2 separate regions of the Homo sapiens genome follow, and region 2 is linked to region 1. Evidence: fine-mapped expression QTL. A gene starts in region 1. The other region holds a variant in brackets. All regions are shown on one strand. Distances are from middle to middle. Region 1 holds the start of CLEC1A (C-type lectin domain family 1 member A). Region 2 holds the start of CLEC7A (C-type lectin domain containing 7A).

Region 1 (5,391 bases):
CTGCAATGGACTGTGTTGGTAGGCTTCCAGCTACTGGGTGGCATTTGCAAAAGAGTATCAGGTGTGGTAGTAGCAGTGGGATTTGTGCTTGCCTTATGTTGCCCAGGGTAGGTAGTCTGGCTTCTCAGGTGATGGATGGGGCTATAAATCTCCCCAGGGTTTCTGTCCTTTGTATTAAGCTACCACGGTGGGTGGAGGGGCAAAGCCAGATGAGGGCTGTGTTAGGTGGGTCTGCACTCTGAGTCACCATGTGCATGGCAAGCAGCGGCCCCTTTTGGAGATGTGGTTGCACAGGGAGTGGGGAGTAGTAGGCAGCAGTAAGCCTAACCCAGATGTCACACAGTTGGCAAGGCAGATCTGGCTCCTGCAGTACTCTGCTAGCAGCAGTGAGCTAAGTTCCAGGCAGTCTGCACTCAGAGCTCACAACTGCCTGAGGCCATAAACTTTTCCCGTGGTGATAGCAACTGCTGGCGTTCAGGCCATGCCCCTCTCTGTCCACCCACACAGCTGGCACCCAGATCCTGCACTCACGGCTGCAACACATTTCCCACTCACCTTTCTGGTTCTGGCCAAGGGAGTTCATTTCACTTGAGGTTATATTGTGAATTTCAGTTGGGAGTTTTTACAATGTGCAACCCCTGGCTGAGCTAGTTGGCTGAGTTCCGTGAGGTTGTCTGTGAGGCATAAGGAATAGTTTCCCTTGGCTCATGCTGGAGACTGGGAATGCACACAAGCCTCTTCCTGCTGCTGCTCTTACTTTTATATTCATCACTGCTCTTTTAATTGGTTCCAGTGCTGGGACGGGTTAAGGCCTTCCCCCATGGCATGGACTTTCAGGTTCCCCTGTGGGGGTATGTATCCTGGAGCCAGTCTCTTCACCTCACACACCCTGGGAGCTTACAGTTTTTCACCTAGCTCATGGTGTAGGTATAACCTGCTGCTTCTTTCAAAGAGTCTGTGGATTCTTTCAGTTTTCCTGTTCAGTTCCTGTGTTGCTTCTTGGGAAAAGAGTTCACAGTGAGAAGGTTTTTTTTTTTTTTTTTTTTTTTCAGATGGAGTCTCGCTCTGTTGCCCAGGCTGGAGTGCAGTGGTGTGATCTTGGCTCACTGCAACCTCCGCCTCCCGGATTCAAGTGATTCTCCTACCTCAGCCTCCCCAGTAGCTGGTATTATAGGCACCCGCCACCACGCCCGGCTAATTTTCATATTTTCAGTAGAAACGGGGTTTTGCCATGTTGGTCAGGCTGGTCTCGAACTCCTGACCTCAGGTGATCCACCCACCTCAGCCTCCCAAAGTGCTGGGATTAAAGGCGTGACCACCATGGCTGGCCCACAGTGAGAATTTTTTACTCACTATTTTGTCCTTCCAAGTGGTAGAGTCATGCTAACACTGCCTCCAATCTGCCATCTAAAAAAAAAAAAATTCCAATTTTTAAAAAATTTAGAATAATTTGATGAACAACAAACAGCTTGAAACACATGTGAATCCACAATGTGCACTTCCTCATAGATCTTTTATATGGTCTGGCTACCCCAACTGGAGCATTCTGACACTCCTTTATATTTAGCATGCTTGATTTTGCCCACCTATCACCTAACATCTGGAAAAGTTTTGGTAGAGTAATATAAGTCTATTGTACAGATTCAGGAAGAACTTTTAGACATTATCTAAAACAATCTTCTTGTCTTTCAGTTTAGGAAATGTAGATGCAAATTGTTAATTGTCCTCCCAAAGGCACAAGGTTGTTACTGATACCTGTCTTGTTATGGTTTGAATGTGTTTCCTGCAGAATTCAGGTGTTGCCAGTGTGGTAGTATTGAGAGAGGTGGGGCCTTTAAGAGATGATTAGTCCTTGAAGTCTTCTCTCTTGAGGATGGTATTAAGGCCTTTATAAAAGACGCTACATGTAGCATTTGGCTGGCTTGACCTTCTGCTTTCTGCCACGTGAGAATACCCTTCCTCCTCTACAGAGAGTGCAGCTCTCACCTGACATCCAAACCTGCCAGTGCCTTGATCTTAGATTTCCCACCTTCTGGAATGCTGAGAAATACATTTCTATTGCTTATAATTTATCTGGTCTCAGGTATCCTGTTGTAGGTCAGCACAAACAGACTAAGATGGGAATATAATTCTAATGTACTGATTCAGGAAGAATTTTTTCACATTACCTAAAACATTTTCTTCTCAGTTTAGGAGATTTAGGCACAAATGAACTGGCTTCCCCAAACCACATGGTGGTTAGTAATAGTTTTAAAAGTTTTTACTTCCAGTAAATTGTATAATTCCTCGTGATCATAATGTACCAAATGTGCTATAAAATGTTGAATCAAGTTCAGATACTATAAGAAAGACCACTACTCTGTTCTTGGAGAAAGGAAGGGGCTAGGTCCTATAATCTCTTCTCTTTTCACAAAGACACAGAGAGGTTAAACTAAGTGACTCCCTAAAGGATGGGTAAGAAACAGGGATGTGTGTCCTTCCAAGTTATTATTATTCTGCAGACTCTGAAGGAACCACAGTGCTACACCGTGCTATTGTAAGTTCTTGCCTTCTTTACAGTGAAGTTACATGAGAAATGCAAACAGGTAAACAAAAAAGACCTGAGAAAGGCCAACTTTTTGACAACTGTTTAGACTGAGACGGCCTAAACAGAAAACACATGCTATTTCCCCTCAGCCTGACTGATTTGGCATTCAGAGTACAAGCTCACAGGAGAGGGGCTGGGCCTGTCCAGTCAGGAATTGCAGTCAGAGACTTTCCCTGCCCCTCGCTGGGAAAGAACATTAGGAATGCCTTTTAGTGCCTTGCTTCCTGAACTAGCTCACAGTAGCCCGGCGGCCCAGGGCAATCCGACCACATTTCACTCTCACCGCTGTAGGAATCCAGATGCAGGCCAAGTACAGCAGCACGAGGGACATGCTGGATGATGATGGGGACACCACCATGAGCCTGCATTCTCAAGGCTCTGCCACAACTCGGCATCCAGAGCCCCGGCGCACAGGTACCCTGTCTCCTGGAGTCCAAATAGACCACAGTCCTTGTGAAATGTGTGAGATGATCTATCCCTCCTAGAAATGGAGATATTTAGCTTGCATCTTATAATTTTATTTCCAATTACTCGCCCTGTGACATAGTAGTGATTTTTTTTTTTCAGTTATATTCAGTTCCATAATTCCCACACTTAGAGAAGGATTTTATTTCCTGGGCCACTCAGCCAATCTAAAGCTAAAATATGACTTCAGTTCTAGTGAAAAGGACTCACATGGTAATATACACAGGACTAGGTTCTAGGTCCTAAACCAGGTATGCCACTTTCCTTCTGTGTAACTTTGGATGAGTTGTTTAAGTATCCTGGTAGCATCATATTCTTTATTTATAAAATATTAACGGCCACAAACATGTATAAAGGGCTCATTATGTGCTGGCAGTGTTTTAAATACTTTAAGTATATTAATTCATATTAACTTGACTTAATATTAAATAGAAGTAATAAAACTTCCTTTACAAGGTGGTTGTGAGTACTGAGAATGATAAATTATGTAAAATATTTGAATGTCTGTCTGATCTGATATAGACTGACACAAAATTGCTGAAAGGAACACTTTAGGTTCTTAAGAAATGGAATGTTGAAAGGAATCCCACATTTTAACATTCATTCAGTGCCTGTGTTTTAATATGCCCTTTCCCTTCTGATTATATCATTGTTTTCTTCACCTTTGTAAATCTGGATATACCTTTAAAAAAAAAAAACTATCCTGTTCCTTATTTCTTTATCAAATAACTTTTAGTTTTCCTTCCTTTCTCCTACTAAACCCTCCATTCACTTTCTATTTATTTCTATTTATTAAATGACCCTCCACCTGAAACCTACTAATATGGCTTTTTTTTTTTTTAACTAAACTACCCAGTAAGCTGTTAAGGGACATTGGGGATTTCCAACCTCTTTGAAATGAAGCTAAGTGACAAAAGTAGGGATGTCAGCTTTTGTAGCCACAGGATATGTGTAATAGGATACAAAGCGTTTTCCTCCAAAAAAACTTACGAAGAGTCCATTTTTACGGCTGTGGTTTTGAGTAGCTTGTATATAACTTCATTTTCCACCTTTGACTGGAGCCAGGAACTCTGTCAAGGACTAGAGATCAGCATAATTAAGAACAGCATGTACAAATAAGTTCTGCTGAGGTTGAAGGGTGGAGAGGGAGGTGGAGCAAGATAAAACACTAGCTGCAACATCTGGGAGCTTCTTTGTAAGAAATGGATATTGAAACAGTAGAAGTGGAGATTACAAAGAATTGTCTTGGAAGAAATCATCTGGAAATAGTTATCTTAGGCAACATATATGAGATCTTGTTTTCATCTTTTTATGGTAATACAAACATTTAGGGGAATACCATCATAGAAGTATAATTATTTCTTAGATAAACATATCTGATATACCTTCGCTGATAAAAATAACAGCAGAAATCACTCAGAAATTTTCGGCAATGTGGAGGATTCAGATTCAACATAATGATGTGATACCATTAAGAGCTGGCAACTTTTATTTTTTAGAATTAATAAAAATAAATCACACACACATTCATTTAATTTCTAGACTTTTGTCAATAACAATTGACGTAACAACTATGTTTGTGTTTAAAAATGCCAAACAATTAAGATAGTAAAAATGCCAAACAATTAAGATAGTGAAAATGAAAAACAACAACCTCATACATTTTTCACAAACTTATGTTTGGGGTCATGTTATCCTAGTACTGAGGATATAATGTCCAATGTGATATGGTCCCTGTTCATAAGGAAATTGAAAGTCTAATACAATTCTCAACTAAGGAGTAAGTATAATAAGGTGTTATGGCAGAAGCATGTACAGTACAGCCGAGAGCTTAACCAAGCTCTCGGCTTAATTTTTACCTAATTAAGTAGAGGAGTTCAGGAAAGGCTTAACAGAAGGAGCAACTGTGGAGTTGAGTTAATTTTAACATCTTCCACATAATAAGGAATCGGGAGTGAGGGTGTTTGAGAGGCTGGGGACACTATAGACAGAGAGACGTATGAAGGGAAAGTCATGAAGGTTTTCAGTAGCTTTGTATTTTTAGAGAACTATAAGCAATATGTATGGCGTAGGTGTAGAGTTGGAGGAGGGAAACTTAGCAAAGGGGTAAGTCTGGCAAGTTAAGGAGGGATTTTAGGGCATGCTGATCTAGTTTAATTCTATTCAATAGTTAAAATGAAGTCAATGCAGGATTTAGATAGGGAGAAACAAAATTTTGCATTTTGGAAAGACCTTCCTGGCTGCAATGGAAATGATAAGTTGAAGGTATATGAAACTGCATGTGCTGATACCAAATTTTTCCACTAGTCCAGTACAAGGGTAGAAAAACCTGAACTGAG
Region 2 (5,391 bases), 29 kb before region 1:
TTTAGTTTTCCTGAGTCAGCAGTCTCAGAAACAGGATCTAAAGGTACAAATGGAAAATTACCACAGCATAGTTTCATTTCCTGCTCTTGAATATCTGGTTGAACTACTTAAGCTTAATTTGTTAAACTCCGGTAAGTACCTAGCCCACATGATTTGACTCAGAGATTCTCTTTTGTCCACAGACAGTCATCTCAGGAGCAGAAAGAAAAGAGCTCCCAAATGCTATATCTATTCAGGGGCTCTCAAGAACAATGGAATATCATCCTGATTTAGAAAATTTGGATGAAGATGGATATACTCAATTACACTTCGACTCTCAAAGCAATACCAGGATAGCTGTTGTTTCAGAGAAAGGTATATATATGTTTTTTCTAATGTGTGCCTTTAGCTCTCCCGTTTGAAAAGATATAAGGGGAGGCTAGGCATGGTGGCTCACACCTGTAATCCCAGCACTTTGGGAGGCCGAGGCGGGTGGATTGACTGAGGTCAGGAGTTCGAGGCCAGCTTGGCTAACGTGGTGAAACTCTGTCTCTACTAAAAATACAAAAATTAGCCGGGCATGGTGGTGCACGCCTGTAGTTCCAGGTACTTGGGAGGCTGAGGCAGGAGAATCACTTGAACCTGGGAGGTGGAGGTTGCAGTGAGCCAAGATCATGCCAATGCACTCCAGCCTGGGTGGCAGAGCAAGACTCCATCTCTGAAAAAAAATAAAAATAAAAACAAAACAAAAAGATATAAGGGGAGAAAATTTGAGAGCCTCGTGATGTGTATATTTTTATGGATATACTTTTAAAGGCTTCAGATGTCACTGAAGATAAATTGAATGCACCCTAAACCTTTTTTCATGAAAATTATTCAGTGACCAATTATTAGTGTTTAAATTAATTATGTCTGATGGCAGAAAATAGAATTTCTCTTTTCTATAGATATAGACATTTCATCAGTGAGGAATTGGTAATAAGTGGGATAATACACAAAGATAAAGGATTTCTGTATGAGTGACTTGTTGCTTGTTTGATAGAAAGGCTAGATTATCGAATGGAGGCCAGGAAACTTAAAGAAGTATATATATGAACAACATTTTTTTTTTGTGGTAAGAGATTAATTTAAATTGTTTTTAAACAAAAAACAATTATTGGTATACCAGTGATGGAAAATATATGAACATATGGTAGATAAAAACATCCCACCAGCAGGACATGAGTCTTAAACAAAGTGTAAATGAAATGAAATAGAAAGAAGGGCATTGGAGGATCTCTGTATTCATAGAATGGGTGATTTAGCCTACTCTACGATTCTCCTATGTGACAATTCTATGAAATGTCCTGACAGCTTAGTCACAGTGGAAAGCAGAAATACATTCTGGTTATGGCAATGTTCATACAAAATTAGTTCCCTATTATCTTTGAGAGAGAGAGATCATTTGTCGGTTTTGACACCAGAGTTTGCTTTCTTCTGCTTTCTGGTTATTCACACTGCACAAATATTTTCCTCTCAGCACTGATGTAATTCTTTTCTTGGGCAACCTATTGAGGAAGCGTGGAAAAAGTGGATGAGGCAAGAGGTAGGGAGACATGCGCATGTTTATGCATATGTGTAGGCAAACGGTATCCTGCAACAACACACCTATCATGTGCTAGCAGTCTCTAAACAAGGTGCTTTTATATGTGTTAGCTCGTTTAATTCCCGCAATAATCCTTTGAGATATTATTACCCCAGTTTCACAAAGAGGAATAAAAAACAACAAAGGGAGTAATTTGCCCAGGGTCATGCAACAAACATATGAAAAGGGAAAATTACCCTTAGTAATCAGTGCTATCTCCCCAACATTAAGCTATTTCCTCTAAGAATCAGTGGGATTTCAGGGATCCTACTAATGTCAAGACCTGTAGATGTCAATGTGGAACTGAAATTAGGAGCATACAGTTATCAAGCCAATGTGCCGAAATTACAATTCCAGCAATTGAAGAAGAAGGTATCCTTACTGGTGGAGAAGCACAGCAAATCCTAGGTGACCAGGTAACCTAGGCAGTGATTAATAATTCACTTAAAAATTTGCCAGTATTTTTTGTTGTTGTTGTTGGTGGTGTGTGTGTGTGTGTGTGTGTGTGTGTGTGTGTGTGTGTTTTAACAGGGTATCACTTTTTTGCCTATGCTGCTCTGGAATTCCTAGGCTCAAGTGATCCTCCTGCCACAGCCTCCAGAGTAGCTGGGACTACGGGAGCTCACCACAATGCCCAGCTAATTAAATTTTTTTTCTTTCTTTGTTTTTCTTTTTTTTTTTTGGTAGGGACAGGGTCTCCCTGTGTTGCCCAGGCTGGTCTTGAGCTTCTGGCCTCAAGCAATCCTCCTACCTCAGTCTCCCTTCTGGGATTACAGGTGTGAGCCACCGTGCAAGGCCAGATTTTTGATGAACTGTAGAATTAAACTGCCCCACCATCCGTCATTCTCTTTCTTTATTCCATTTCTGCCCCCTCTGGCTCCTCAGGATCGTGTGCTGCATCTCCTCCTTGGCGCCTCATTGCTGTAATTTTGGGAATCCTATGCTTGGTAATACTGGTGATAGCTGTGGTCCTGGGTACCATGGGTGAGTATTTGGTGGAGGAGATTAACAACAGACAATTTAGTAAGCAATTATTATGTGCCAGGCACTCTTTTAAGGGCTTGACATGCATAATCTACTTTAATTTGTATATAATCTGGTTTTATCTGTATTGGGTTGGTGCTGTTAATGCCCATTTCACTTATAAAGGGTGTGAGAGACTGAGAGGTTATTTTACCTTTCCAGGGTTATAAGCTAGTTAGTGGTGGGACCATGATTAGAAATTTGGGTGATCTGTCTAAAAAACTCATACTCTTAACTACATTGCTCTCCTACCTCCCTTACATAGCTGGTTTCAAAGCTGTGGAATTCAAAGGATAAATTAATGAAGAAAACAAGCGGAGCTGAAGAAGAAAGTACAATATGGTGCTGTCTTCCTAATGAAATAAATTCACTAAATGGACATTAAGCTATTTTTATGATTCACATTATTTAAGGAAATTATTTCCGATCTTTAATATAAACACCTTTGAATACACCAGAAATTTCCTGAGGCACTTGGTCTTAAGTCGATATTTTGTAATGGATTAATATTTTTTTTACATTTTATATCACATGCAATCTGTTGTCAGTCACCTTCAGAGAGTCTTCATGACATTCCTTAATTAGTCAAATGTTTATTGAGTGC[G/A]TTCTATGTTATAGGTACTGGGCAGTTTCTCAAGGATCTCTCATTTTTAAATAACAGAAGAAAGGTGAAAGATGTTGCTATTTCAAATCTGTCATGGGTCCAATTGACTCTATGACATTTGCCTCTTGCTGCCTCCCTCATTCTATTTCTTCTTCTCCACCTTCTTTTTTCTTTTCTTTTTTTTTTTTTACTATACCTCCTTTATAAAAGTTATGTATTTCTTTTCATCTATTCTATCAATCGTCTTTATCTCTCCACAGCAATATATCATCTATTTATCATTAATCAATAATGTATTCTTTTATTCCAATAACATTTGGGTTTTGGGATTTTAATTTTCAAACACAGCAGAATGACATTTTTTCTGTCACTATTATTATTGTTGGTATGTGAAGCTATTTGGAGATCCAATTCAGGAAGCAACACATTGGAGAATGGCTACTTTCTATCAAGAAATAAAGAGAACCACAGTCAACCCACACAATCATCTTTAGAAGACAGTGTGACTCCTACCAAAGCTGTCAAAACCACAGGCAAGGGCATAGTTAAAGGACGGAATCTTGACTCAAGAGGGTTAATTCTTGGTGCTGAAGCCTGGGGCAGGGGTGTAAAGAAAAACACTTAGATTCAATGATTGTAAATTTAAGGCAAATACACATATTAGTATTACCTTAGTGTAATGTATCCCTGTCATATATACAATAAGGTGAAATTATAAGTACCCTATGCAGTTGGCTGGACAGTTCTAAATTGGACTTTATTAATTTTTAAAATCAGTAACTGATTTATCACTGGCTATGTGCTTAGATCTACAGGAGATCATATAATTTGATACAAATAAAAGAAAAGTGTTCTCTCCCCTTACAGAATTGACATTTTAAATGCGATACAGTTAGAATAGGAAATATGACATTAGAAAGGAAGAATGACAGGGAGAAAGGAAAGAAGGGAAAATGTTGCCAAGAATAAGGAAGCTATATTAAAAATATACAAAAGAGGTAGACCTAATACACATGTCCCTGAAAACTCATCAAATTTGTTTAATCATACAATTTCATTTACTTAATTACAATTCTATACACACTTGACTTTTACTTCTAATTGCATCATAATTGACTATGACTTAATGTTTTCAGTTCAATTTTTCATCTCTGGACCCATACCTTCTCACTATTTTTATTAAGTAGCTAATAATATATAACAGAGATAGTGTATAATATGAATAATTGGCCTATACTTTTCTCACTTGGAAAGTCACATTATGAAGTAGATCTTACATCATAAAATAAGTAGCAATATGAAATTGCTGTGTACCTCAATGACTGATTGTGAGTGGACTTATTTTAAGGAGTTATTAAGGAGAAAGGTAGTTTTGAGCTGAATTAGAAGGAATAGAAGACAAGTGAAGAAAAAAAGGATGGTTGGCTGCCTAAAATACTATTTATAGCTAGTTTGTTTTTAAATTTTAAATGAATAGGAAGATTTTAATGTATTCTCATCTGTAAAATCATATCCCTGTAGTTCGAATTGACAATGAAATATAAAAATGGCAACTAATTGGTTATTTCATAAGTGTCCTTAAGATGAATGGTGTTCACACTAAAAGAGTGAATTGGTATGCTATGAACCTCATGGTACTAATCTTTTATTTCCAGGGGTTCTTTCCAGCCCTTGTCCTCCTAATTGGATTATATATGAGAAGAGCTGTTATCTATTCAGCATGTCACTAAATTCCTGGGATGGAAGTAAAAGACAATGCTGGCAACTGGGCTCTAATCTCCTAAAGATAGACAGCTCAAATGAATTGGTAAGTGTAGACTTCTGTTATGATTATCTGTGGTGTGTATCCTGAAGGAAGATAGAGGGAGATTCCAGGTAATGACAATTTTTCCTAAAATGAAGTCTTTTTTTTTTTTTTTTTTTGAGGCAGAGTCTCACTCTGTTGCCCAAGCTAGAGTGCAGTGAAGCCGCGACATCCCAGGCTCAAGTGATCCTCCCACCTCAGCTTCCTGAGTAGGTAGGACTACAGGGTGCACCACCACACTCGTCTAATGTTTTTTTGTATTTTTCATAGAGACGAGGTTTCTCCATATCATCTGGGCTGGTCTCAAAATCCTGGGCACAAGCGATCTGCCTACCTCGATCTCCCAGTGTTGGGATT

The links.
Region 2: its variant is fine-mapped to the expression of CLEC1A in whole blood (TOPMed, PIP 0.91).

The regions. Positions count from the first base shown.
Region 1 is chr12:10,096,418-10,101,808 of GRCh38, reverse strand. It overlaps CLEC1A (C-type lectin domain family 1 member A), which reads left to right and starts at 2,824. Exons shown (of 6, transcript NM_016511.4): 1 at 2,824-3,001. The coding sequence starts at 2,887.
Region 2 is chr12:10,124,943-10,130,333 of GRCh38, reverse strand. CLEC7A (C-type lectin domain containing 7A) reads left to right here and starts at 135. Exons shown (of 6, transcript NM_197947.3): 1 at 135-354; 2 at 2,489-2,587; 3 at 3,626-3,763; 4 at 4,886-5,037. The coding sequence starts at 252. The region is part of intron 1 of LOC105369655 (a long non-coding RNA gene); the gene reads right to left. The variant G/A (reference allele first, on the strand shown) is at 3,231.